Homo sapiens: one gene and its partners. The protein of the gene in region 2 purifies or fractionates together with the protein of the main gene of each other region. This does not show direct contact. Each region holds a gene or a part of one and is shown on either strand. Other genes may lie near its edges.

The links.
Region 1: the proteins of DIDO1 (region 2) and KCMF1 purify together in Homo sapiens (co-immunoprecipitation; one large-scale study listed by IntAct). This does not show direct contact.
Region 3: the proteins of DIDO1 (region 2) and MACROH2A1 fractionate together in Homo sapiens (co-fractionation; one large-scale study listed by BioGRID). This does not show direct contact.
Region 4: the proteins of DIDO1 (region 2) and MTMR4 purify together in Homo sapiens (affinity purification with mass spectrometry; one large-scale study listed by BioGRID and IntAct). This does not show direct contact.
Region 5: the proteins of DIDO1 (region 2) and FBP1 purify together in Homo sapiens (affinity purification with mass spectrometry; one large-scale study listed by BioGRID and IntAct). This does not show direct contact.
Region 6: the proteins of DIDO1 (region 2) and PACSIN2 purify together in Homo sapiens (affinity purification with mass spectrometry; one large-scale study listed by BioGRID and IntAct). This does not show direct contact.
Region 7: the proteins of DIDO1 (region 2) and SON fractionate together in Homo sapiens (co-fractionation; one large-scale study listed by BioGRID). This does not show direct contact.

What each region holds. Positions count from the first base shown.
Region 1 is NC_000002.12:84,977,661-84,981,160, reverse strand, and holds part of KCMF1 (E3 ubiquitin-protein ligase KCMF1), read right to left. Parts: intron 1-3,500. UniProt on the Homo sapiens protein: E3 ubiquitin-protein ligase which accepts ubiquitin from an E2 ubiquitin-conjugating enzyme and then transfers it to targeted substrates, promoting their degradation by the proteasome.
Region 2 is NC_000020.11:62,888,506-62,892,005, reverse strand, and holds part of DIDO1 (death-inducer obliterator 1), read left to right. Parts: coding exon 1-19; intron 20-850; coding exon 851-1,046; coding exon of another isoform or gene 1,047-1,075; exon of another isoform or gene 1,076-3,500. UniProt on the Homo sapiens protein: Putative transcription factor, weakly pro-apoptotic when overexpressed. Tumor suppressor. Required for early embryonic stem cell development.
Region 3 is NC_000005.10:135,389,232-135,392,731, reverse strand, and holds part of MACROH2A1 (core histone macro-H2A.1), read left to right. Parts: intron 1-3,500. UniProt on the Homo sapiens protein: Variant histone H2A which replaces conventional H2A in a subset of nucleosomes where it represses transcription. Nucleosomes wrap and compact DNA into chromatin, limiting DNA accessibility to the cellular machineries which require DNA as a template.
Region 4 is NC_000017.11:58,490,639-58,494,138, forward strand, and holds part of MTMR4 (phosphatidylinositol-3,5-bisphosphate 3-phosphatase MTMR4), read right to left. Parts: intron 2,315-3,500; coding exon 2,204-2,314; intron 1,962-2,203; coding exon 1,873-1,961; intron 1,203-1,872; coding exon 1,025-1,202; 3' UTR 1-1,024. UniProt on the Homo sapiens protein: Lipid phosphatase that specifically dephosphorylates the D-3 position of phosphatidylinositol 3-phosphate and phosphatidylinositol 3,5-bisphosphate, generating phosphatidylinositol and phosphatidylinositol 5-phosphate.
Region 5 is NC_000009.12:94,608,519-94,612,018, forward strand, and holds part of FBP1 (fructose-1,6-bisphosphatase 1), read right to left. Parts: intron 1,544-3,500; coding exon 1,403-1,543; intron 1-1,402. UniProt on the Homo sapiens protein: Catalyzes the hydrolysis of fructose 1,6-bisphosphate to fructose 6-phosphate in the presence of divalent cations, acting as a rate-limiting enzyme in gluconeogenesis. Plays a role in regulating glucose sensing and insulin secretion of pancreatic beta-cells.
Region 6 is NC_000022.11:42,889,650-42,893,149, forward strand, and holds part of PACSIN2 (protein kinase C and casein kinase substrate in neurons protein 2), read right to left. Parts: intron 1,534-3,500; coding exon 1,298-1,533; intron 1-1,297.
Region 7 is NC_000021.9:33,567,038-33,570,537, reverse strand, and holds part of SON (protein SON), read right to left. Parts: intron 3,382-3,500; coding exon 3,271-3,381; intron 1,568-3,270; coding exon 1,451-1,567; intron 1-1,450. UniProt on the Homo sapiens protein: RNA-binding protein that acts as a mRNA splicing cofactor by promoting efficient splicing of transcripts that possess weak splice sites.

The DNA of each region.
Region 1 (3,500 bases), on a different chromosome or scaffold from region 2:
GTCATGATATCAAGATGCTTCATCCACTTATTCTTCTGCTATTTCTTCTAGCTGAGGGTAATACAACTGACCCACTCTTCTGATCTCAGTTTTTTTTTTTCTAGTAGCAGTGATTAAGTTACAGGGATCCATCTATACTTCTTTGCCAGTACCCCCGTGGCCACTGGCAAAGTTTGATGGACTGCTGGCTGGCACTGTGGCCATAGAAGAGATGAGGCTAGGCTGGGTGTGGTGCTTCACACCTATAATCCCAGCACATTGTGAGGCCGAGGCAAGAGGATTGCTTGAGCCCAAGAGTTCAAGACCAGCCTGGATGACACAATGAGACCCTATCTCTACAAAAATTTCAAAAATTATTCAGGCGTGGTAGCACATGCCTGTACTCCCAGCTACTTGGGAGGCTGCGGCAGGAGGATCACGTAAGCCCAAAGGTTGAGGCTGCAGTAAGCCTTGTTTATGTCACTGGACTCCAGTCTGGGTGACAGAGTGAGACCCGGCCTCAAGACAAAAAAAAAAAAAGATATGAGGCTAATTGACTGTGTATATGAATTGGATGAACTCATAATTCTACTTTGCTACAACTCAGAGAGCCAACAACTAAAAACAATTCTACAGGCAGTTACCATGGTTAACAAACACCAAGAGGGCCATCAGGGATGTAGCAGAGAGGGAATGGTGGAAGGTGCCTAACAAGGCAATTCATTCATCTCTTGTTCATTTCATTGGGCAGTGTTTTCACTTCCTGGTACCCAGCTCTCAAGACATTCCATCAGGCGTGAGAGCTGGTTTTCTGTTTCCAACATCCTGTAGCTACAGATCCATTTCCAAGCTTCACACCCACCTTGCCTGTCTTTCCTCTGCCAACACCCACCTGGCCACTGGTCCTTACCAACCCAAGAACAGCCTATCTTTTCCTGGCTCCTCACTTCCTTCTCATGTAATCTAGGTAATATGTTCCTTTAGGAAACTGTCTGCCTTATCCCAGATCTTTAACATAAATCAAGACATGGCTAACATATAAAAATAACTGGCTGGGCGCAGTGGCTCATGCCTGTAATCCCAGCACTTGGGAGGCTGAGGTGGGCAGATCACCTGAGGTCAGGAGTTCAAGACCAGCCTGACCAACATGGAGAAACACCATCTCTACTACAAAAAAAAAAAAAATACAAAATTAGCCGGGCGTGGTGGCGCATGCCTGTAATCCCAGCTACTTGGGAGGCTGAAGCAGGAGAAACACTTGAACCCGGGAGGCAGAGGTTGCGGTGAGCCGAGATCGCGCCACTGCACTCCAGCCTGGGCAACAATAGTGAAACTCGGTCTCAAAAAAAAAAAAATTACCAAATTTTAAGATGCTCTGATCTGTATACTGCTTACGGGTTCTTTTCTCAATTTTAATGAATAACTTCAAAGACTGAAAAAATACCTTATAATTTTAAGGAAATGAAAAACATCATGGTCCTTAGCACAACACTAAAATTAATTAAAAAATTAATCTTCTATAAAAAAAGACTTTTATTAGGAACAGCATTCTACTTTTAACTTTTATGAATATGCAGTTTAGGGAGCGCTTCCTTTGAGTCCATATGCATGAAAGTAGCCCCACAGCTATATTTATAAAGTGATTTTTTTTTTTTTTTTAGACAGAATTTCGCTCTTGTTGCTCAGGCTGGAGTGCAATGGGTGATCTCAGCTCACTGCAACCTCCGCCTCCTGGGTTCAAGAGATTCTCCTGCCTCAGCCTCCCGAGTAGCTGGGATTACAGGCGCCTGCCATCACGCCCAGATATTTTTTTGTATTTTTAGTACAGATGGGGTTTCACTATGTTGGCCAGGCTGGTCTCAAAATCCTGACCTTAAGTGATCCACCCATCTTGGTCTCCCATGGGATTACAGGCATAAGCCACAGCGCCCAGCTCATAAAGTGATTTAAAAAACATTATTTCTAGGATAATTCAATGACAGCTTAGCCTTCACTAAAAACTTTTGGAGCTTCTAGTTTAAAAACAAAAAAAACATGGCCAGGCGCGGTGGCTCACACCTGTAATCCCAGCACTTTGGGAGGCAGAAGGGGGAATCACTTGAGGTCAGGAGTTCGAGACGAGCCTGGCCAATATGGTGAAATCCCATCTCTACTAAAAATACAAAAATTAGCCAGGCACGGTGGCTCATGCCTGTATCCTAGCACTTTGGGAGGCTGAGGTGGGCAGATCACCTGAGGTCAGGAGTTCGAGACCAGCCTGACCAACATGGACAAACCCTGTCTCTATAAAAACACAAAATGAGCCAGACATGGTGGCGCATGCCTGTAATCCCAGCTACTCGGGAGGCTGAGGCAGGAGAATCGCTTGAACCCAGGAAGTGGAGGTTGTGGTGAGCTGAGATCGCGCCATTGCACTCCAGCCTGGGCAACAGGAGCGAAACTCCATCTCAAAAAGCAAACAAACAAAAATTAGCCAGGCATGGTGGTACATGCCTGTAATGCAGCTACTTGGGAAGCTGAGGCAGGAGAATTTATTGAACCTGGGAGACAGAGGCCACAGTGAGCCGAGATCATGCCACTGCACTCCAGCCTGGATGACAGAGTGAGACTCTGTCTCAAAAAAAAACCCAAATACATTGTGCACATGTACCCTAAAACTTAAAGTATAAAAAAAAAAAAACCCAAAAACCAAAAGACAAAAAACCTAGGCAAATATATATGATAGATATCATAAAGTTGATGTTTTGAAAATAAGTTATGATGCATGGATTTCTTTTAAAAAGGTTGCAAAGCTTAATATGAAGGGGTCTGTTTAGTTATTTCACATCATAAGTTTCATAAGCTGCTACTGTGAAAAAGTTACCATCTTACAAGACTGCTGCTAAGGCTGGGCACGGTGGCTCATGCCTGTAATCCTAGCACTTTGGGAGGCCGAGGCGGGTGGATGACCTGAGGTCGGGAGTTCAAGACCAGCCTGACTAACATGGAGAAACCCTCTATCTACTAAAAATACAAAATTAGCTGGGTGAGGTGGCGCATGCCTGTAATCCTAGCTACTCGAGAGGCTGAGGCAGGAGAATCACTTGAACCTGGGAGGCGTAGGTTGCGGTGAGTTGAGATCGCCTCATTGCACCCCAGCCTGGGCAACAAGAGCGAGGAAAGAAAAAAAAAAAAAGATTGCTGCTAAAACATCTTAAAATCTCAGACTAAAAGGAATCTCTTCCAAATTGAGTTCCCAATTTGAAACAAGAACATGTAGTTATGTTTTACTACATTTTAACTTAAACATGAATATAAAAATATGGGAAAATGAGCTTCAAAATGAACTTTAAATGAAATTATGAAATCAAAGACCCCAGAAATTAAAATGTGATTCATTTTCCCATAAATTTACATTCTTATATATTCTCTATTGAAAGTCAAGGTAAATGTAATTTACGATTTATTCAAACTGAAAAAGTTGCTGGGCATGGCAGCTCACACCTATAATCCCAGTACTCGAGAGCTGAGGTGGGAGAATC
Region 2 (3,500 bases):
CAAGTCTTCTGTGTCTAAGGTACCTGCTTATAGTATAAATTCTGCAACCATGGAAAATTGTGTTGATTTAAACACATCTTTTTTTAACCTCTCGTTTGGATGGGTTAACACTTAAAATGTTAGCCTGTAGCTTACTAGATATTTCCAGGTGAATGTTAAAAATTAAGTTTTGCAGTGAGCCGAGATCGCACCACTGCACTCCAGCCTGGGAGACATAGCAAGACTGTCTCAAAAAAAAAAAAAGTTTACATAGTTGTATGACTGTGTGAAGGTGTCTGAGTGTGCCGCGGTAGAAGTTTGTTTCTGATTTATTATAATGTATGTGCGGTTAAATTTTAGGAAGAAATAGATACGTTTTATTTTCTTGTTTTTTTATGATTGAAGGAGCAGAAGGTGTCTTTTGCAGGGGTGATCAGGCTCAGGGCACTCAACCTGGGCTCTTGAACGGTTCTGGTTTTCTGGGACCCCCTGAGATTTAGCTACAGCTGTGCGTGTCTGTCTGTGGTTTTCTCTGGGGAATCTCTGTAGTCTTCGTCAGGTTCACGAAAGGGCTAGACCCTGTCGTCTAGTTTAACCCCCTCTAGGGAGGGGCACAGACAGCCATTGCAGATCATGCAGCTGGTTCCTCGTGACCGGGGCCGTCGTGCATGTAGGAAGAGCCGGCTCGGCTCCAGACACTGCTGGGCTCACATGTCACGTGAATTGCCTCACTGAGACAGCAGCTCTGTGAGATCGTGGCTGTGAGTCGGAGAGATCTGACAAGGTTTCCTGTTGAAAGCAGGATGTGAATTGGGCGTGTGATGCTTGAGCCACATTTTCTTTATGAGTGCTTCCCACTCTTCCATTGCAGGAGCTCTGTCTGATCCGCTTCCACCCCGCCACAGAGGAAGAGGAGGTCGCCTATATCTCTCTCTACTCCTATTTCAGCAGCCGTGGCCGCTTTGGTGTTGTAGCTAATAACAACAGGCACGTCAAGGACCTCTACCTGATCCCGCTGAGCGCCCAGGACCCTGTTCCATCCAAACTCTTGCCCTTTGAGGGACCAGGTAAGCGCCGGCTTTCTGGGTGGAGGTGAGGCCCACCTGCACCTGCACCCCTCCTCCCACTGACATGCCCTGCTGAGTCCTGACCAGCCCAGGGCTCTCTGGGAGCAGGAGTTAGGAGCACAGACGCAGCGGTTAGCAATAGGATTCATCTTTGAGGGCGTAGGACTGTGGCACGAGAAGTACCCCTGATTCACAGCATAAATTGTCTTAGGAGAGTTTTTTAGAGAGGGAAAAACCCACAGCCTGCAACCAGCTCATCTTGGCCTCAGGTCAGAGAAGACTCAGTGCCCAGAAGCCCAAGGCTCAGCCAGAAAGGGAGGTGACACTCCCAGCGGCCCTGCTCTTTCCTCTAGACAGACTCGGGAGCCAGCACACACCGGGAAGTGGCTCCATCAGGGATCACTTCTCTAACAGGGATGGATTTCCAGGAGACTTAACAATAATGACATAGAAAACTATTTCTAGAAATAATTATTTTAAAATCTGCAGCTCAAATTGTAATAGGTTCATTCATCTTTGGCAAGCTATTTTGTGTTTGCACGTTCCTTGGAAAGTACTGTATTTAAACGATTATTTACAAATAGCCTAAAATACATCTTTGTCAAGGGTTGAGGGTGATTCCAGGGGCCACGTGCTCTGTTAGTGACCAGCTCTTTCATAGCCCCTTAGAAGAAGCTGATGTGACTTCAGTTAGGGGTTAGTATCTGATGCCCAACTGAAGTGTCTCCGTGGCCATGCAGTCCCCAGAGGATTGGTGTTCTCTCAAAGCGGGTGTGTGGATCACACAGTGTCCTCTGAAGTGCTTCGTCATAAAGGCAGGTGCTGTCTGGACCCTGTGCCTCAGTGCCCTCTGTCCCTGTCACCAGGCCTCGGCGGGTGTTCCTGCCATAGCTGTGCAGGGTGTTCCCACCCACACCCCTCATGCCGCACCCTAGCTAGCTGGGGTCCTGTAGGGGCCACTCCACATCTTGGGCGGGACTTCTGTCGCCCCAGGCACAGCCCACGTTCCTACTGGAGCCCATTCTTCACAGCTGGAGTGGGCTCAGCCTATGCCTGTGTTGTGGAATTATATGTCCATAAAGGGATTGGTTGGTATCAGTAATTTCAGGGTTAAATATTTGCTGGCGTGGTGCATTAAATTATTTTAGTGCCAGATAAATTTTTAAAAGCAAAGTGCTTTAGTGTGTCCCCTCAAATCCTACTTGGGATAAAGAGATGCCACCTAATGGGTGGCAGAAAGGACCCTGGTAGAGGTTCTTGGTGTTGCTTGTGAAGAGCTCTGGCCAGCTCCACGTGACCAGGGAGAGGAAAAGCCCGGCCCTCCTGGAGGTGAAGACCGAGAAGCTGGCCTCTCCGCACCTGTGAAGACCCACTGGTCAGTTGCAAGTGCGACAGTGTGTGCACTCAGTGCAGACACTGCAGCACCTCAGCACCTCCCTACCGGGGTGGAAAGAGCACTTTTTCTTTACAGAAACATGATTCTTAGATAGCGAGCCTCCCCTTTTTAAAACAATTGAGGCGATATTTCATCCTTTCTTGAGCTTCTCTCCCTGCTCATCTCCAAACTTGGAGCTGTCAGGTGAGCACGGTTGTAGGGTGTTGAGCGAGCCCCGGCGCATGCCGGGCACCGGGTTCCCCACACTGGGCAGTGACGGGGCCCAGGGAGGCCACCAGAGGAGCGGCGCCTCCATTCTCCCCACAGCAAGGGCTGGCTGTGCAGGTGCAGCCCCGGGGCAGAGGGAAAGGACAGGTCTCCCAGCACCTCCCGGATGGCACCGGGACAAGGAGGGCTGGGCTGGGGTCACTCACCTTGTCTGCTGAGTGCGATGGCACCAACCACCCACACTGTCAGCTCCGCGACCAGCTGGGGGAACGTCACACTCGCCCACCAAGGCACTTGCTGAGGCCACGACGCCGCCTGACGGGGACACACAAAAGCCCCAGGGACTTTGATCCACGATAAAGAGCAGAGGCGTCTGGGTAAAGTAACACAGGGCAAGGGACTTTAGAAAAGTAACAGCTAGTGAAACCTTTCCATACACTTCAGAAATGTTTTAACTTAAGACTTCAGTATAATGTTAACTTCTCCTGATGTCCTTGTTGACATGAATGCGTGTGCGTGAAATCTCACACACTTCCATGGTCACTAAACAGCCTTCACCCCGGGCCAGGCCATCGGGTACTCGGCCCGCTTCACGTACTGATTACTTGACTTGGCGTTTTCTAGATATAAACATGTACATGTGTGTCCTGGCTTTGTGGTGTAAATGTGTAGTGCGTGTGCATGTGCGCGCGTGTGTGTGTGTAAGGCTAGGTCCTGGCATGTTTCCCCTGTCTCAGCGGACCCTGTCCTCACGGAGATAGCCCAGAAGCCCTTGGACAGCACAGGCCACACCTGAGGGTGCTGATGGTGGTGACTCCACAGAGCTGTGGTCAGGGGTGAGCGTGTGCTGC
Region 3 (3,500 bases), on a different chromosome or scaffold from region 2:
CTTAATTGCCATTGGCCTCACAGTCACTCTCCCCCTTGTCATGGGTGCCTGACTGGAGCTACCCACACCTGCATAAACCTCTGAAGAGCAGGATGGACCTGGCACATTCATGGGTTTATCTGGAGACTGCACAACTATGAGTTGGTTTTCAAAAGGGTGTTTTGAAAACCACCACACATTGCTGGATGTCATAAGGCTTCATGGCTTAGTCAGAATTCTTTCATAGCTGTGGCTGCAGCTTGGGGAACTATAGTTAGAAGTGCAGGAAGAACATGGGGAGGGATAAAGTACAGAATCTCTGCAAGACAACCCCATTGGTGGGGAGACAGACTTGAGGCCGCTTTATTGGACAGGAGCCTGACTCAGAATGAGAAGTGAAGATGTTCTTCTGCCAGCAGGGTGGCACTGGAGGAGCTGTGATATTTCAGACCTTTCTTGGGATGAGTTGACTACAGTGCTTCACATCGAATGGCTTGCAGTTCAGTCAAGTTGGAGAGGCATGTGCTGGGATATATATACTATGGGAACATGGAGCAGTGAGCAATTCCAGGCTGTGGTCATGTCCACAAAGCCTCCATGGCAGAGGGAGGCTGTGAGTGTCAGTTCAGCAAGTTGACAAGAGGACAAAGGGCATTCCAGGCAGGAGAACTGCGTGTTCAGAGACATCCTTAACACAGTGTGACAGGCTCAAGAAGTCAGGGGTGGCCTGAGGCATGTGAGCCAGGGCTGGGGTGACAGGAAGCAGTGCCACCAAAAGTAGCTGAAGTATGCTGTTTGTGGCTAGCTCAGAAGCTCAGGCTGACAGGGAATCATCAGAGTAGGCAGAGCTGCTTCTGGTGTCCATGGATGAAGACTGGTGCGGTTGAGAATAGGTCAGAAGTAAAGAGGCTGAACCAACGCAGGGAGGGTGATGAGAAGAGGCCTGAGAGGTTCTGCAGGCGGTTCAGCAGAGCTTGGCTAATGCTTGGGTGCTGTGGGGTGGACAGAGAAGTCTGGGCCAGGTTCACTGCTGTTTGGCTAGTTTGGTGCATGACATTGCCACTGATGAGGCTGAGAGACCCAGAGGAGTTCAAGGCACCCATGGGACTTGTAAGTGGGCCCTTGCCATCAGCAGTCAGAACAGAGCTCTGAGGCTCAGCGGCCAGGTGTTGCACTGGCATAGAGACCTGGGAGTCACTGGCATGTTGATGTAAAGACTCAGCTAGAGTCAGAGGAGGGAAAGACAAGGAGCACCACTTTTAAGGAGTCAGCGTGTCTAGGACCTGCCAGGTCTCTGAGTGCTAACGGATCCTTTCTGGAGGAGACCACTGTCCAGTTCCCACATAGGCAGCCCCAGACATGCCCAGCAGGTCAGCTGGGAAACAAAGCTGAAGTCTGTGCTCTAGTAGGAAAAGGGCTGAGCTGCTGTTAATCATCACTGACCACAGGCCTCCCCTGCTGAAAGGGGGAGACATTCCGATTTAAAAGCTCAGTCCAAAGGCATCAGGTTGTTGGTCTGTGAAACACATTTGTAGTAAAGCAAAAGACTGCTAGGAAACCCAATGACAGCCTTGCCTGAAAACACAGGCACACATACATATACACATATCATTTCCTGCTCAGAGTGAGCACAGGCACCTTTTTGCAAGGAATGTTTTAAAATGGAGTTCATTGCAGCAAGGAAGGGATCCAACTAATTGTTTTGGAAAAACCCAGACCCTTCTGGGTCTCTCTAGCCCTCAGTGAGCAGTTAAGACTGGGTGCTCCTTGACAGGGCGCTCATGACAGAGGCCTTTACTCTTCTAACATCACTCCAGAGCCAGGGCCTCTGCCATCTTACCTCTGTTGGGCCTGTCTACACAGTAGCCCCAGAGTGCCCAGAATTCTGTTTTCTGTCCTCACAGCCATCTCTGTGGCTCATCCCAGATGATTTGAGATGCACCTGGGATTAGAGAGGTGTTAAGTGTGGACCGTGGCATGTCCTGACAATGTCCCTAGTATAGGTTGAGCATCAGAGTAACAGGGACTCCTATCCCTGTGGCCTCCAGTGGTCACAGCATTGACTGCTGGTGCTGGAAGGCCCCAAACACCATGGAGTGTGACGTCAGTTTATCAGTACATGGGAGACCTGCCCAGTTGGTTCAGTGAGCAAACATGTTCATAGGGAAGACTTTAGGGGGCCCCAGAACAGGCCAAGGCCCCTCATATCCCCTCTCCCAGCACCCTGCACTGGCCCTTTGAAGCATGCATTACGTTTATCTTTTAAATGACTAGGGGGTTATTTATTGTCTTTTTCCCCACCAGTTCCACAGGGACCACATCTGCCCAGCATAATACCTGAAGTGAATGCATAAATGAACAGGATGCTCCAAGTAAACATTCGAGACCTTGGATGGTGCTACAGTAGGAATACAGTTAGGGGCACCCCTCCACCCACCTGCAGTCTGATGGGAGAATGGGCACACGTGCATCAATGCTGTGGTGTGCAGCACATGGGGCCCTGAGGATGAAACAGCCAGATCTCAACATTTGGGAGGGCTGGCAGAAGGCAGAGGCAAGTGTGAGAGATAATGGAGGTCCCAGCCAAAGGGAACAGCTACTGCCCAGGCAGGGAGAAAAGAAGTGGAAGGGTATTTGGGGGGAACCTTGTGTGGCTCCCTGTTTGCTAGTTTAGACCACAGGTGGCCCAAGGCAAAGCTGGACATGTGTGCCAGGCCTAGATTTCTAGGGCATTACATGGCAGGCCAAGAGTCCTGGTTCTATCATGAGAATTGTGGCAGCCACAGAAAGCTTTCAGGCCAGGGCCGGGGCATGTTCAGGTGGGTGTGTACCCAGATTGCCCCACCCATGGGGTAGAGGGTGGATTAGAGGAGAGGGGGCTCTGGTAGGGAGACCTTTTCAGGAGACATTTGTGACCACTTGATTAAAATAGTGATGACCAGGATCCCATCACTGGAGGTGGAGAGAAAGAGCCCCACAAGAGGTGTAGAGGAGGGTTTTCCTCTGGACTGGGTGACTGGATGGGGATTGGGAGCAAGGAAGGAAAAAACACCTCTCTCTCTCTTCTCTAAAGATTGGCCCATCTGGTGGACTAGAAGTGCTCAGAGGGCCTCTTACTGCAACCTGACTATACACTGTACTGACTCCTGTAAGCTGTTCTTGCCTCTCACAGATAAAGAATCTAAAATAGAGACACTGCTTTCATCAGAGAATCTAGGTATCTGCCTTTACATCATCTTTTTAGGGGAGGGTGTCATAGCTGTTTTTCTTTTATGAAGCCTTTGGTAAGTTTATCAGCCCCAGTCTCAAGTGTATGAAAATGCAATTATTAAACAAGTGTATAGAATGTGGCCAAGAAATCCCATTTCCTTTTTCATCATGTGGCATAATGGCAAGGCACTTAAGTAAAATTGATGTCATGGTATAAATTGTGCAAAGCCAAGCCTTTCTTTTCAGGGATCAAACTGCTCCAGCGGAGTGCATCACCTGGACCCGGAGGGCCCTGCAGCTACAGACAGTGG
Region 4 (3,500 bases), on a different chromosome or scaffold from region 2:
TGTCAAGTGTTCAGGATAAGAAGCAATGTGACCCAGAGGAGGCATCAGCCAAGGGAAAGACAACATGGGGGAAATGGGCAATGGAACAACAACAACGAAAACCTTTGTTTTATTTTCATGCCAGGAGAGGATCAAGGTGTAGCTCCTGTGTTAGCACCAGGACAACTAGGAAAAGTCAGGTGCAAAGAGTAGGGCACAATCAGCAGATATTTCACAAGGATAATTTTTGCTTTTCCCTTCTCATTCTTCACAGTGCATAACTCAAGAGCTGCCACTGTGTAACAGAGACGACTGCCTTCACAGCTCAAAATAACTCAATGTTTGCCAGGACCGAACATCAGCAGAGTTTTCCTCTGCTCCCAAAAATGTCTCACTCCCTAGAACTGTTCCCCTAAACTGAATATTCACCAATGCTGGCTGATGAGCCAACTGAAAAATACATTGAAACCTCCACTTGCTGAGCCAGTCTTCAAACCAAACTCCACAGAAAGACAGTACTAATGCAACTAGAAGGAGTGCCTCTAAAGGCTGAGCCTTCATGCAGACACAGAGCACAGAGGTACAGGATATAGTTCATCTCAAATAGGACAGGAATTCCTACCTTGTATACTATAATCTGCTTTTGTCAAGGTGGAGGAGAGATGGGTCTGGTTATCACTTGGAGTTTGGTTATACATATGCCTTTCTATTGCTGTTTGGGGCACTTTGCACCAGGCAACATCTACGCAATCATCATCTTGTGACCTCCAGGAGAAAGAGGCTGGAGTCACCAACTCAACATTAAGCTTCCAGACCCTGGGTCTGGGTTAGGACCATTACCCCAAGGTGAGGGTATCACCAGTAGAGGACCTCCTGCTAAATTGCAATTCCTCTGCTCCAGTTTCATGATACCAAGGAGGATTTCTCAAGATGGTATCTCTGAGCTCTGTGATTTCATGAGCCACACCAAGGAACCTTCCAAACTACAACTGAAGAAGATCCTCCCTTCAAACCTGCTAAAATTGGACAGGTTTCTCCCCGGCATTCAACTGGAAGCTGTAGCAATGGGTTTCTTCAGCTGTTGGCTCATGAGTTCCCTGGCACGAGAGACTTGAATGTGTTCGTAACATGAGTTACAGACGAGAACTGGGTCATAGAGTTGCTGATCAGGAATGGGCAGCTTCAGGTGGCAGCATCCAGCACAAAATACATTCCCACAATTTCTGTCAAAGCAGAAAGAGGGAAGAGTTCATCAGAAATGCCAATATACTGGCCAGGCAGGGTGACTCACACCAGTAATCCCTGCACTTTGGTAGGCTGAGGCAGTAGAATCGCTTGAGGCCAGGAGTTTGAGACTTGCCTGAGCAACATAGCAAGAGCCCATCGCTAATAAAAAAATAATTAATTAATTAATATTAAGAAATGCCAATATACTGAGAATGAGTGATACTAAATGAAAAGTTGGGGACAAACAAAAATAGTTTCTATAAAGAGGTGTCCACTTCCAAACTAATTCCACTTAGTTCTATACATATGTATTACACTATTTTTGTTTTTGTTTTTTGTCCTTTTTGAGACAGAGTCTTGCTCTGTTGCCAGGATGGAGTGCAGTGGCGTAATCTCGGCTCACTGCAACCTCCAGCTCCCTGGTTCGAGCTATTCTCCTGCCTCAGCCTCCAGAGTAGCTGGGATTACAGGCATGCGCCACCACGCCCAGCTAATTTTTGTATTTTTAGTGGAGACAGGTTTTACCATGTTGGCCAGGATGGTCTCAATCTCCTCACCTCATGATCCGCCTGCCTCGGCCTCCCAAGGTGTTGGCATTACAGGTGTGAGCCACTGCGCCTGGCCTGCCCTGTTTTTTGTCATACTAAATCATACAAAACATCTTACCTGCAATGGTGTCTTCGTTTGGCCAACCAGAATTCACAGTCACAGTTATAGCAGTGTGATGCCATATGGTCTGGAACCCAGCGAGTCACCTAATAGAAGGCACAAAGAAAAATTCCTGGTCCTTGTTGACAGACTGGAAGAGCAACATTGCAATGAGGAAAGCACCCCAGCAGAAAGAGACAAGGCTTATCTTCATAACTGGCTACCATTTGCCTACCAGGCTGACACTCCTCTGGGGGACAGCTCAGTCTACAGCATGTCATTCATCTCTGGAAAATATGATGACTCACTGGCTCACGTAAGTACCCACCACATATGTGCCTAAACATACCTCAGTCTCTTTCTTATCAACAGGTTCCCAGCTTGCTTCTGAAAGGCAGTCTTCACTGTGATCAGAGCCAAAATCCTCAGTATCACTGCCATCTGACTCCTTCAAACATGTCTGATGAAAAGGCAAAGACAACAAATTATCTTCATCATCATTAACGCTTACTGTTTACCATGTGTCAGGCACTGTGCTAAGTGCATTACACACATGAACTTATTTCTTATGACAGTCTTACAATGTATACTACTAATATCCCCATTTTACAAATAAGAAAATGAAGCCACAGAGAAAGAGCTGATACGTAGTAAAGCTGGGATTTGAACCTAGTATTGTAGCTTCAGATTTACACTCTTACCGATATGCTACACCACAGCATAGAAAGACTCTTGTTATGTTCTAAACCAGGGGTTGGCAAGCTATGGCCCACAGGCCAAACTAGCCCACTGCCTGTTTTTGTAAATCAGGTTTTGCTGGAACACAGCTGCATTCATTCATTTACTTACTGTCTATGGCTGCTTTTTGTTTTGTTTTTGAGACAAGGTCTCGCTCTTTTGCCCAGGCTGGAATGCAGCAGCATGATCACGGCTCGCTGTAGCCTCAACATCCTGGACTCAAGAGATCCTCCCACCTCAGCCTCCTGAGTAGTTGGGACCACAGGCGTCCACCACCATGTCCAGCTAATTTTTTGTAATTTTTGTAGAGATGGGGTTTCACCATGTTGCCTAGGCTGGTCTCAAACTTCTTGGCTAAAGCAATCCACCTACCTCGGCCTCACAAAGTCCTAAGACTACAGGCGTGAGCCACAGTGCCTGGCTACGGCTGCTTTTGCACAATAGCAGAGCTGAGTAGTTGCAACATAGACGGTATGGCCCACAAAACCTAAAATAGTTATTATTTGGCCTTTTACAAAAAAAAAAAAAGTTTGCTGACTCCTGTTTAAAGCACCAGAGAAGTGAGAAGCAGGCAAGTGGGGAGCACCTTAACAGAAGGAAGGAAAGTGTCTGTGTAAATGGCAAGATACCATGGAGAGGAAGCTGGCTCCTAGAAGCTCCCCAAGGACTATGGTGCCAGAACCTGAGGCTGCCCAACACTGCACAGCCTATAGTCTTCATCTCTCACCTGGATTATTCCAAAATGACCTTACCAGCCTCCCAATCTGGGTCTCAACTGCCTCATTAAAATTGTACACTGTTGGGCCGGGCGCAGTGGCTCACGCCTGTAATCCCAGCACTTTGGGAGGCCGAGGTGGGCGGATCATGAGGTCAGGGGATCGAGACCATCCTGGCTAACACAGTGAGAC
Region 5 (3,500 bases), on a different chromosome or scaffold from region 2:
GCAAATCACAGTCAGCAAACATCAGTGGTGCCCGAAATTCCATCCTGGGCTCAGGTGGAACTTTGCTCTGGTTCTGCCACTAACTCCCCCACCCCACCCCTACCCAGGTCACCACATTTGGCGACTTTAACTAGTGCTATTACCCTACCCTTGTTTATTTGTTAAGTGCCCATGCTTCCAAGGAGGTGAAAGTCCACTTCCCTGACAGCCTGGGACAAAGGCAGCCTGTGTTGAGTTAGCCTTCCTGCCACACACAGACCCGGCCTCACCTCCAGCAGCCTATCTCGCACAGAAGGTTCCTGTTCCTTGTCTGTTCCTGGGGTTCAGTTTGCCAGCAAAAAGCACTTTACACATAGTTCACTAATGTCATAGGAGGACATCTCTAAAAGTTAAAAAAGTTGGCCAGGCATGGTGGCTCATGCCTGTAATCCCAGCACTTTGGGAGGCTGAGGCGGGCAGATCACCTGAGGTTAGGAGTTCGCGACCAGCCTGACCAACATGGCGAAACCCCGTCTCTACTAAAAATACAAGTGTGGTGGCAGGCGCCTGTAGTCCCAGCTACTCAGGAGCTGAGGCAGGAGAATCGCTCGAACCCAGGAGGCAGAACTTGCAGTGAGCCGAGATCACGCCACTGCACTCCAGCCTGGGAGACAGGGCAAGACTACATCTCAGAAAAAAAAAAAAAAAAGAAAGAAAGACTGCACCAGTTAACTGAAGGTTTGTGTAAATGTACACGAATAAATGTGGGAGCTATTTTTGAAGAAGCAATGTCGTCCACTGCTTCAGTTGGCACACCCATTCGTCTCAGGAAAACAGCCTTTTGGTGACTAAAGTAGAAAAGCTAGAAATGGATGGATACAGTTTATGGCAAACAGAATATCTACAGCCCCATCAGGTCCATAAATGCATTTTAGTTGGCCAACATAGTGTTGCACACATGCAGAAACATTATGTTTTTTACAATCCAGTGTTTCTTGAACCATTAATAGAAGCCTTGGCAAGGCGGGCCCCCTCCTCCCAATTGTAATTGCTGGAACTCTTCAGTTCACCCCAGTTCCACCCTTGCCCCCCGGCCTTCCTTCCCCAGCACACTTCATCATCCCTATGGCCTGCCTGGACCTGGCATTTGGGTCATTTGAGTAACAGCTGCTCTGAGGAATTCACATTGGAACAAAGACCCCCTCTTGTGCCAGTCTGAGATGGCATTTCTCACCTCCATAGTCTGCTCGGGAGGCATACACTCTCTCTTGGTCTCCTGCCCCCTTTCCACCACACATCATCATCTCTGTCCCTCCATGGGCATCACCTCCCACCTCCACATACCCCTGCCAATCCCCCACACATATCATTCATTTGCTCACAGACACCAGCCAAGCCCCCAGCCTCCTGTGAGGTCTCTCACCGGGTCCAGCATGAAGCAGTTGACCCCACAGTCCATGGCAAGGACCAGCATGGTGGCACTGCCATACAGTGCGTAGCCGGCTGCCACCAGGTTCCGGCCTGGTTGCAGAGCATCCTTCTCAGAAGGCTCATCAGTTGATTTCTAGAGCAAGAAAGAAATCAAAGAATGTTTTTGTTTTGTTTTGTGATTCTTTTTTACAGTTCAACCATTAACAGGAGGCATTCTCAAGGTGCTCTTCTAATGAAATAGGGCATCTTCCCAGAGGGGCCTTCCCCTACACATCAGCAATATCCTGATTAGATTATCACGGCAGCCTTCCCACCAGAACCCAGATTTCCTGCATCTGGATTCCTCTTTCCAATTAGGGCCCTCCTCCAATTTTTCTAATGTGATATTCCCTCATCTCTCCACTATCAGTTCCAAAAAAGAGCATGCCTTCTTGCCAGTTCCCACTAATTTAATCTTATTACGGGCATCCATCTCTGTCACCTGCCTACTCCATCTTTATTTAAATAAATTAACACTGGGCTGCAGGGCAGCCAGTCTGCGGAGGAAATCAGTTTTGTGAGCTCTTGCCGCTGCAGCCCATACTCTGCTGAGCATGTGGTCTATATCACTCACACGTCAGGGAAATTCTCAGAAACGTAGGAACTCAGAATATCTCCCCAGAGTCATTATGGGGTAGAGCAGATGCTGTCCAGTGTTTTAACCGTGATGCATGGGAAGAAGCACATTTTACATCACAAACCAGTGCCCCCACACACACACCAAAAAGTTACCAAAATAATACCTACACTTAGAACGTGGCATGTGCCGTAATCCATTTTTTCATTAAAAACACAGCCCACTGGGTCATGTGGTCCAGAGTTTTTCTAACACTAGGGAAGGGAGCCCCTTAAGGAGACAGCTCCTAACCACTGATTTCTTACTATTAATGATTTTCTTCTTTTTTTTTTTTTTTGACACGGAGTCTCGCTCTGTCGCCCAGGCTGGAGTGCAGTGGTGCTATCTCGGCTCACTGCAAGCTCCGCCTCGCGGGTTCACACCATTCTCCTGCCTCAGCCTCCCAAGTAGCTGGGAGTACAGGCGCCTGCCACCACACCCAGTTAATTTTTTGTATTTTTAGTAGAGAGGGGGTTTCACCGTGTTAGCCAGGATGGTCTCTATTTCCTGACCTCGTGATCCACCTGCCTCGGCCTCCCAAAGTGCTGGGATTACAGGCGTGAGCCACTGCGCCCAGCCTGATCTTCTTTATTAACACTGGATTGACCTCTTTGGTCATCAAGACAGCCCCAAACAAATCTTTCAGCTTAACTACTCTCTGCTTGAATTAAGCAGAAATAAAAATATGCAATTTCTCGAACTTCACTTATTCTTTTCCTAGATTCCTGCAGCTGAGCGTAAGCAGGGGCATCTGTATCACGCAGCTGGAGAAGGAAGTCATCCCAGCAAAACATTCCAGGTAATTTCTTCCCATAACTTTCAAAAGGGTGGCCCACAGAGCACCTGCATTAGAATCACCTGGGATATTTATTAAAAATGCACATTCACAGCCGGGGTCATGACTCATCCCTATAATCCCAGCACTTTGGGAGGCTAAGGTAGGAGGATCATTTGAGGCAAGGAGTTTGAGACCAGTTTGTGCAACACTGGGAGACCCCATCTCTACGAAAAAAAATTTTTTTTTAATTAGCCAGGCATGGTGGCATGTGCCTGTGGCTACTAAGGAGGCTGAGGCTGGAGGATCACTTGAACCTGGGAGGTCGAGGCTGCAGTGAGCCATTATCATTCCACTGCACATGCCTGGGTGACAGAATGAGAACCTGCCTCTTTAAGAAAAAGAAAAGAAATGCATATTCTGGGGCTACAGCCTAGACACACTGTCAGACTTTCCATGGCGGGGCCTGAGAATCTGCATTGCACTATGCAATGTGAAGGGGTGACCTTCACACTCAAGTGTAAGAACTTCACATTCAAGCATAACAACTACTCATATAAATGAGAAAACCACAAACCAGAAAACCACAAACCCATTTCTTTCCACCGCTTCCCTGCCCCTCCTAGTTTTCACCTGGGGAGGTGGTTAGTTAGCTGGTTG
Region 6 (3,500 bases), on a different chromosome or scaffold from region 2:
AGAACATCTGGGTGTTGGGGGTGGCACATCTACCGTCTACTCCATTCCAGCTAGGAATGGGGGGCGAGGCTGCAGGCAGGGGCGGGGCACACAAGCTGAGGGCTGGGGTGGACAGATGACAGCCTCCAACTAGCCAAGGCTCGACAAAACTCAATGGCTTTGGTTGCTACTTTTAGAAAAACAGGTATCAATGTTTGAAATTTTGGGATAAAAACCTATGCAAGAGAAAGAAAAATGTAAACTAGTTCTTTCTATCGTCAAAGGGACTTGAAAAAAAAATAAAGTGAAAGCAAGTTTATTGAGAAAGTAAAGGAATAAAGAAAGGCTACTGCACACGCAGAGCAGCCAAAGGGACTTTTTTTTTTTTTTTTGAGACAGAGTCTCCCTCTGTCACCAGGCTGGAGTGCAGTGGCGTGATCTCAGCTCACTGCAACTTCCACCTCCTGGGTTCAAGTGATTCTCCTCCCTCAGCCTCCTGAGTAGCTGGAACTACAGGTGCCCGCCACCACGCCCTGCTAATTTTTGTACTTTTAGTAGAGATGGGGTTTCATCATGTTGGCCAGGATGGTCTCAATCTCCTGACCTCGTGATCCGCCTGCCTCAGCCTCCCAAAGTGCTGGGATTACAGGCGTGAGCCACCGCGCCCGGCAAGGACTTTTAAGTCTCCAGCAGACACTTCCCCAGGGTTGGGAGAAGTACTGTTAGTGGTTAAGAGCTTGGGCTTTGAGCTCTACCACCAATGTATGGTTCTGATCCTCAGTTACCAAATCTGTAAAATGTGTTGGTAGGATCAAATTTAAAGAATGCCCTGTAATTCCAGCACTTTGGGAGGCCAAGGTGGGTGGATCACCTGAGGTCAAGAGTTCGAGACCAGCCTGGCCAACATGGTGAAACCCCGTCTCTACTAAAAATACAAAAATTAGCAGGGTGTGGTGGCATGTGCCGGTAGTCCCAGCTACTCGGAGGGCTGAGGCAGAATTGCTTGAACCCAGGAGGCACAGGTTGCAGTGAGCTGAGATTGCACCACTGCACTCCAGCCTGGGAGAGAGAGTGAGACTTTGTCTCAAAAAATAAAAATAAAAAATTTAAAGAATGCACATAGAGCATTCAGCATCTTCAACCTGGGTAAATGTCAACTACCATGGGCTTCTAGCCTGAGGAGTGGCTTCATCTCTACCAGGTCTGGCCTCCTGTGCCTACAGCCAGTGGCAGGAAGTCCTAGGTGCAGGAGGTGGTGCTGCTAGTGGGGTGCCAGGCAGAGCAAGGCCGGGCAGGGAAGCCTGCAGGACAGATGTACCTCTTTCAGCTTCTTGGCCCAGGGCTTCTGTGCCTTCCGAAAGCCGTCCTCAGCTTCCTTGGTCTCCTTGAAGCCGCCCATCATCTGCTTGTGAAAGGCTTCCTTCTGCCAGTTCTTGATCTTCTCGAAGTCATCGTTCATCAGTGAGGCCTTCACCTCGAGGTGCAGCTCGCTCACCCTCTCTGCCTCGGACATGAAGGCCATCCAGGCCTTCTCCACGGTCCCGTACTGGGGCCCTGTGCAGGGGAGAGAAGCTGCGGGTCACTCAGCGCCGGCCATGGTGGGGTCTGCTCTGCTCACACCTCGGCTGTTCAATGTGGCCATTTAGACCACAGAGGGTTTCCTTTCAGGGTTTCAGATATTTTTCTCTCAGGGACTCTGTGCCTTTTTCAGTTCCCAAAGCTGAATTTGCTCTGCCCCTCGTGTTAGGAAAATTGGGGGATTACATGCCTTTCCTTTATTTTTATTTTTGGGATGGAGTTTCGCTCTTATTGTCCCGGCTGGAGTGCAGAGACGTGATCTTGGCTCACTGCAAACTCTGTCTCCCAGGTTCAAGAGATTCTCCTGCCTCAGCCTCCCGAGTAGCTGGGATTACAGGTGCCCGCCACCACGCCTGGCTAAATTTTTGTATTTTTAGTAGAGACGGGGTTTCACCATGTTGGCCAGGCTGGCTGATCTCGAACTCCTGACCTCAGGTGATCCATTCGCCTCGGCCTCCCAAAGTGCAGGGATTACAGGCGTGAGCCACCGCGCCCGGCCATGCCTTTCCTTTATTTAAAGCCACTGAACTCTATAAAAACTCAAATTTCCACATCTTAGAAGTCTTAATTTACTTAAAGGTGGCCAGAGAAGGGGGGACCTTCTGAAGTGAGCAGATGCTTCTCCCAGGTGTTGGGCACCCACCCACACCATGCCAACGCTTCTCCTGGCATGGCTCCTATCAGCCCTGCTTGGCCCCTGGCTAGCCCTGCACTGCCTTCCTCTGCAGGACTGTGTTCATTCACTCCCAGAAAGAGCCTGGCTCTGAGCACAAGCTTGAGAACACTGTGGAATGAGGACTGTCCCCTCAGCAGAATGGAAGCCCATCCTGCAGGAGGAAGGAGAGGAGGAAGCAGGAGCCTGCTCTGGACCAGTATGGCAGGAGGGGCTGAGTCGCCTCTCCCTACTCACTGTTCTCAGTCCCCGAGGCTCAGGAAGGAAGCCCTAATCCAGGCTGGCATTTCTATTCAGGGGGTAGGGTGGGGTGGCGTGAGGCTGGAGGGAGGGAGAGCCACAACGGAGCCGGGGCAGAAATCGAGAAGATCCATGGCTGGTCTTCAAGGTGGTCACAGGGACAGTGACCAAGTGCGCTGAGTCATGACAGAGGTGGGCTGAGGGGAGGGCAGGCTGTGAGAACCCAGAGGGGGACACGTGACTCTGGGGCTTGGAGACAACAGAGAACAGCCCCGGAAGTTGGACCTCTCTGTGCCTTCGTGTCTACAAAATGAGCACATTCCTGTCCTGTCCACAACGTTACAGCCAGACCCACAAGGTGAGGGTGGTAAGGGTGCTCTGTAAACCTCAAGCTCTGACTGACAGCTTGATCCTGGGAGAGGGGCTGCAGCAGGTGGAAACGAAATGACGACACTGCCACCGACCAAGGGAGCTGACCTATCCTAGGCCCCTCCTCTGCCACGTGCCTGCTCCACAGCCTGGGCACATACCCTGCCCTAAGGACTGTGCTAAGCCCACACAAACAACCCATGTCAGCATCACGGGAAAGGACAGGCAGCTGGACTAGACCTGGCTTGCTTGGGACCTGGCTCCCCTGATTGGCTGAGGACAGCTGGGGCTGAGGACAGCTGGTCAGCACAGGAAAGCCTGCCCCAAAACACACCTTGAGAAACCCACACTGCTCTGCTTCTGTGCCGGAAAGGCTGTAATCAGTCAAGTTCCCCTTCCCTGCTGGGAAGTGTGTTCTAAGCATGGCCCCTGTCCACACAACAGTGGCACTAATAAAGCTACAGAATCTTCTGAGCTTTTCGGTGGGGACAGAAGGGGGTGAAACCTCTGCCATACAACACCTGTAATTATTCCCTTAAAATGTAAACTCAGAAAGACTGCCAGGTGTTGCCAGCTAGTCTTATCTGACCTGCTACATGGCCAAGTTTAAAAATAAACAGCTCTCAGTGTTAGAAACTAAGGTGCCAAGCGGCAAGGCCTT
Region 7 (3,500 bases), on a different chromosome or scaffold from region 2:
CTAACACCAACCCTCAGCAAACTGCAGAAATTGTAATTTCTTAATGAATCTAACTGTGTACTCACTATACACATCAGTGCAACTACTTCCCAAAAAAAGGCAGGCATAATGAGTATACATGATGTTTCATATTAATTTGTTAGTAAGATCAACAAAGATAAAGCTATCAAAATTGAAATAAATGTTACAAGATTAAAATACACAAAGCAACCAATGTCTCATTTTTCAGAAATTCAGCTCATTCACTGGCACTCATAGCAACTCTCTATAGGTAACCATCACGTTACTGATTACCACTAGACACCTCAGAGACTTTGAAATTCCAAAGAGTTACTTGCCCATGATTACACAAGGAGTCAGGAGTACAACAGGATAAAGAAACCTTCCCAATCCATTAGACCACGCGGCCTCCCAGTTTCAGCACTGCTATGCTGCCAGTACTCCTGTAACAAATTTCCCATCACCCATCCAACCAAGCTTTGTCCCTTCACCACAACGCGTTTCTTCAGAATGCCCTTCTTAGCCACCTAAGACTCCCCCAATGATGAGGCAGCCGTAGGTGGAGTTCACAGGTCTCACTGCAGAATCTGAAACCAGATGCACCTACATCTTCGTAGCACGAGGCGTCCATTCTCTCCCTTGATTTTAGGTCTTACATATCTGTTTTGTCATGAAATTAGTGGTTCTCAAATTGAGCCTGTGGATCACCAGAGGCCACTAGGGCCTAAATGGTGGTCCACAGATTAATCTCCATCCCATCCCCTTCACCACAGCCCACCCCACTCCAGCCATCCTCCCTCAGGCTTCCAGTCCCATGGCAAGATCACCACATGCAGAGCTAATACTAGGGCCTCCCAACCACTTGCTGTAACCAGCAGCTGACAACCAAAAGGTCCTGGGGCTACAGGTCACAAGAGGAGTGAGGAACGGGGGCCAAGAGATCTTACAAGAAGGCACAGGCACTAATGAAGCGGGTGGGGTGCGAGGGCAAAGGAATAGAGGAATGGAAAATTAAGGTGGTAGAGGGCTCTTGGGGGCAGTGATCCACTAAAAATAAACCTGTAATAAAGTATCCCATGATGAAGAAAAATTTGAGAACCACTGCTTTGAAATGATTAGGTTAGTAGTCCAGCAGGAACTGTGGAATATTCTGAACAGCACCTGATACACTATTAGCGTTCAAAATAAAGTTAAATCACCCCTTCAAAAGCAGCAGTAACAATTTTTAAAATAACCTTATAAGTTAGTGGCTCTTGAGCCACATTTATACATTTGCCATTTTCTCATGAATCCAGTCCGTCTTCAGTGTCCGCCCTGGAGCATATACACATAGCAAATTTACTTGGAACTTTGGTTAGAGTCACTGGTCTTTTCATGCAGTTTTAATAAACAGTTTCCAAAAAATTTAAACTTTTTGTTCGACACTTTCATATGTGCATATACTGTGTACCTTTTTAATCCAGGCTTGGGCACCAGTATTGGCCAACTGTTCTTGTGTCAAAACCTGTACTCCTGTACTTCCTGTGAACTGGCCAGGAATAGAGTTCAGCTGAGCCCAGGCATCAATCTGAAGAAAAGAAGTAGTCTCAGTTAACTAAGTAAAATTACCTGATTAAAACATCACTGGTAATAATTCACTAAAAATGGCTGAAAAGCAGACTTAAATATTTAACTTTTAAAACATATTTAACATTAAATGTTTGCCTAAACTTTCTAAAGAAGCAGTTTGACAACATTTAGTGAATCCCATTAATAAGATTTTGAAATGTATCTAAAAGCACAGCTACTAAAAAATACAGCTGTTAATATTCTTCAAACTATCACACAGATACACTAAAAATGCAAAAAAGAGCTCATATGACAATGGGTCCCCACCCTCCCTTCCTATCTCATACAAATGTATTGTAATACATGTCATGACAGCCTGGATTCTTAATTACTTCCTTTGAGACATTTATACAGACTAAATTCATGACACAGGTTTAAAGAGTTTAAATGTAGGAAACTGTCCACTTGAATACATAAACGACTATTTTTTTTTGAGATGGAGTTTCTCTCTTGTTGCCCAGGCTGGAGTGCAATGGTGCGATGTCTGCTCACTGCAACCTCCTCCTCCCGAGTTCAAGCGATTCTCCTGCCTCAGCCTCCAGAGTAGCTGGGATTGATTACAAACATGCGCCACCGCGCCCGGCTAATTTTGTATTTTTAGTCGAGACAGGGTTTCTCCATGTTAGTCAGGCTGGTCTTGAACTCCTGACCTCAACTGATCCGCCCGCCTCGGCCTTTCAAAGTGCTGGGATAACAGGCGTGAGCCACTGCACCCGGCCGTAAAACAACTTTTTAAAGAAGCTTGTATACTTTTTTTCAGTCACCAACATTTGTTGTGATAAAGATCAGCTGTCATTCACACAAATTAGATTTACTAAACACCTTGCACTGTCAGCAATGTATTTCCTGTCTGAACATGTACTTACTGATTTACCATAAAACAGTAGAAATGAAATGGAGAGGCTGTCCATTGTTAAAAGCACAGACTCCAGATTCAGATTGCTTGGGTTTGAATCCCAGTTCCCCCACTAATTAGTTGTGTGACTATGGATATCACTTAATCACTCTTTTGTTTTTTTTAGACAGTCTCACTCTGTTGCCCAGGCTGGAGTACAGTGGCGCGATCCTGGCTCACTGCAACCTCTGCCTCCCAGGTTCAAGCATTTCTCCTGCCTCAGCCTCCTGAGTAGCTGGCATTACAGGCATGCAACACCAAACCCAGCTAATTTTTGTATTTTTAGTAGAGATGGGGTTTCATCACCTTGGCCAGGCTGGTCTTGAACTCCTGACTCCTTGCCCCCACCTCGGCCTCCCAAAGTGCTGGGATTACAGGCATCAGCGACCATGCCTGGCCTTAACCACCCTTTACTTCAGTTTTCTCGGCTGAAATATGGCAACTATTAATACCTACACATTTCATAGGGTTGTAGGCACTTAGTTGTTTTTATACACCAGATTGTAAACTCTGTGAGGACAGGGAAATTTTTCTATTTTGTTCTCTCAAGAAACAGTTCCTGCCACATAGTAAACAATAAACATTTATTGAATAAATGATCAGGCCTCGAATCACTTTCATTTAAAATAAGACATTGAAAATAAGGTAAAGGATGTTACAACTCAACCATCTAGTTAGCAAAATTCTTATTTAGACATTAAAACTGGTACATTGGTGTGAGTTGGCTGATGGTAAATAATAATTTTTTTTAAAAAACTGCTACATACCCTTTCCTGAGCTCTATTTAACATGCTCATGGCTTCAAGATCAAATGCATTCTCACTGAGTCTTTTCTGAGCAAGTGCCCGTTCACTCATTGCTGTAGAGATGTCCACAGGCTAAGAAAGAAAACAGAGATAATTATCTCAAATTACCATAGTCCCCTAAATTCTGAAAAGTACTCATATCTTTAGTTGCTACATATCAAAAACAAAATAATAGTCTTATAATACTAATA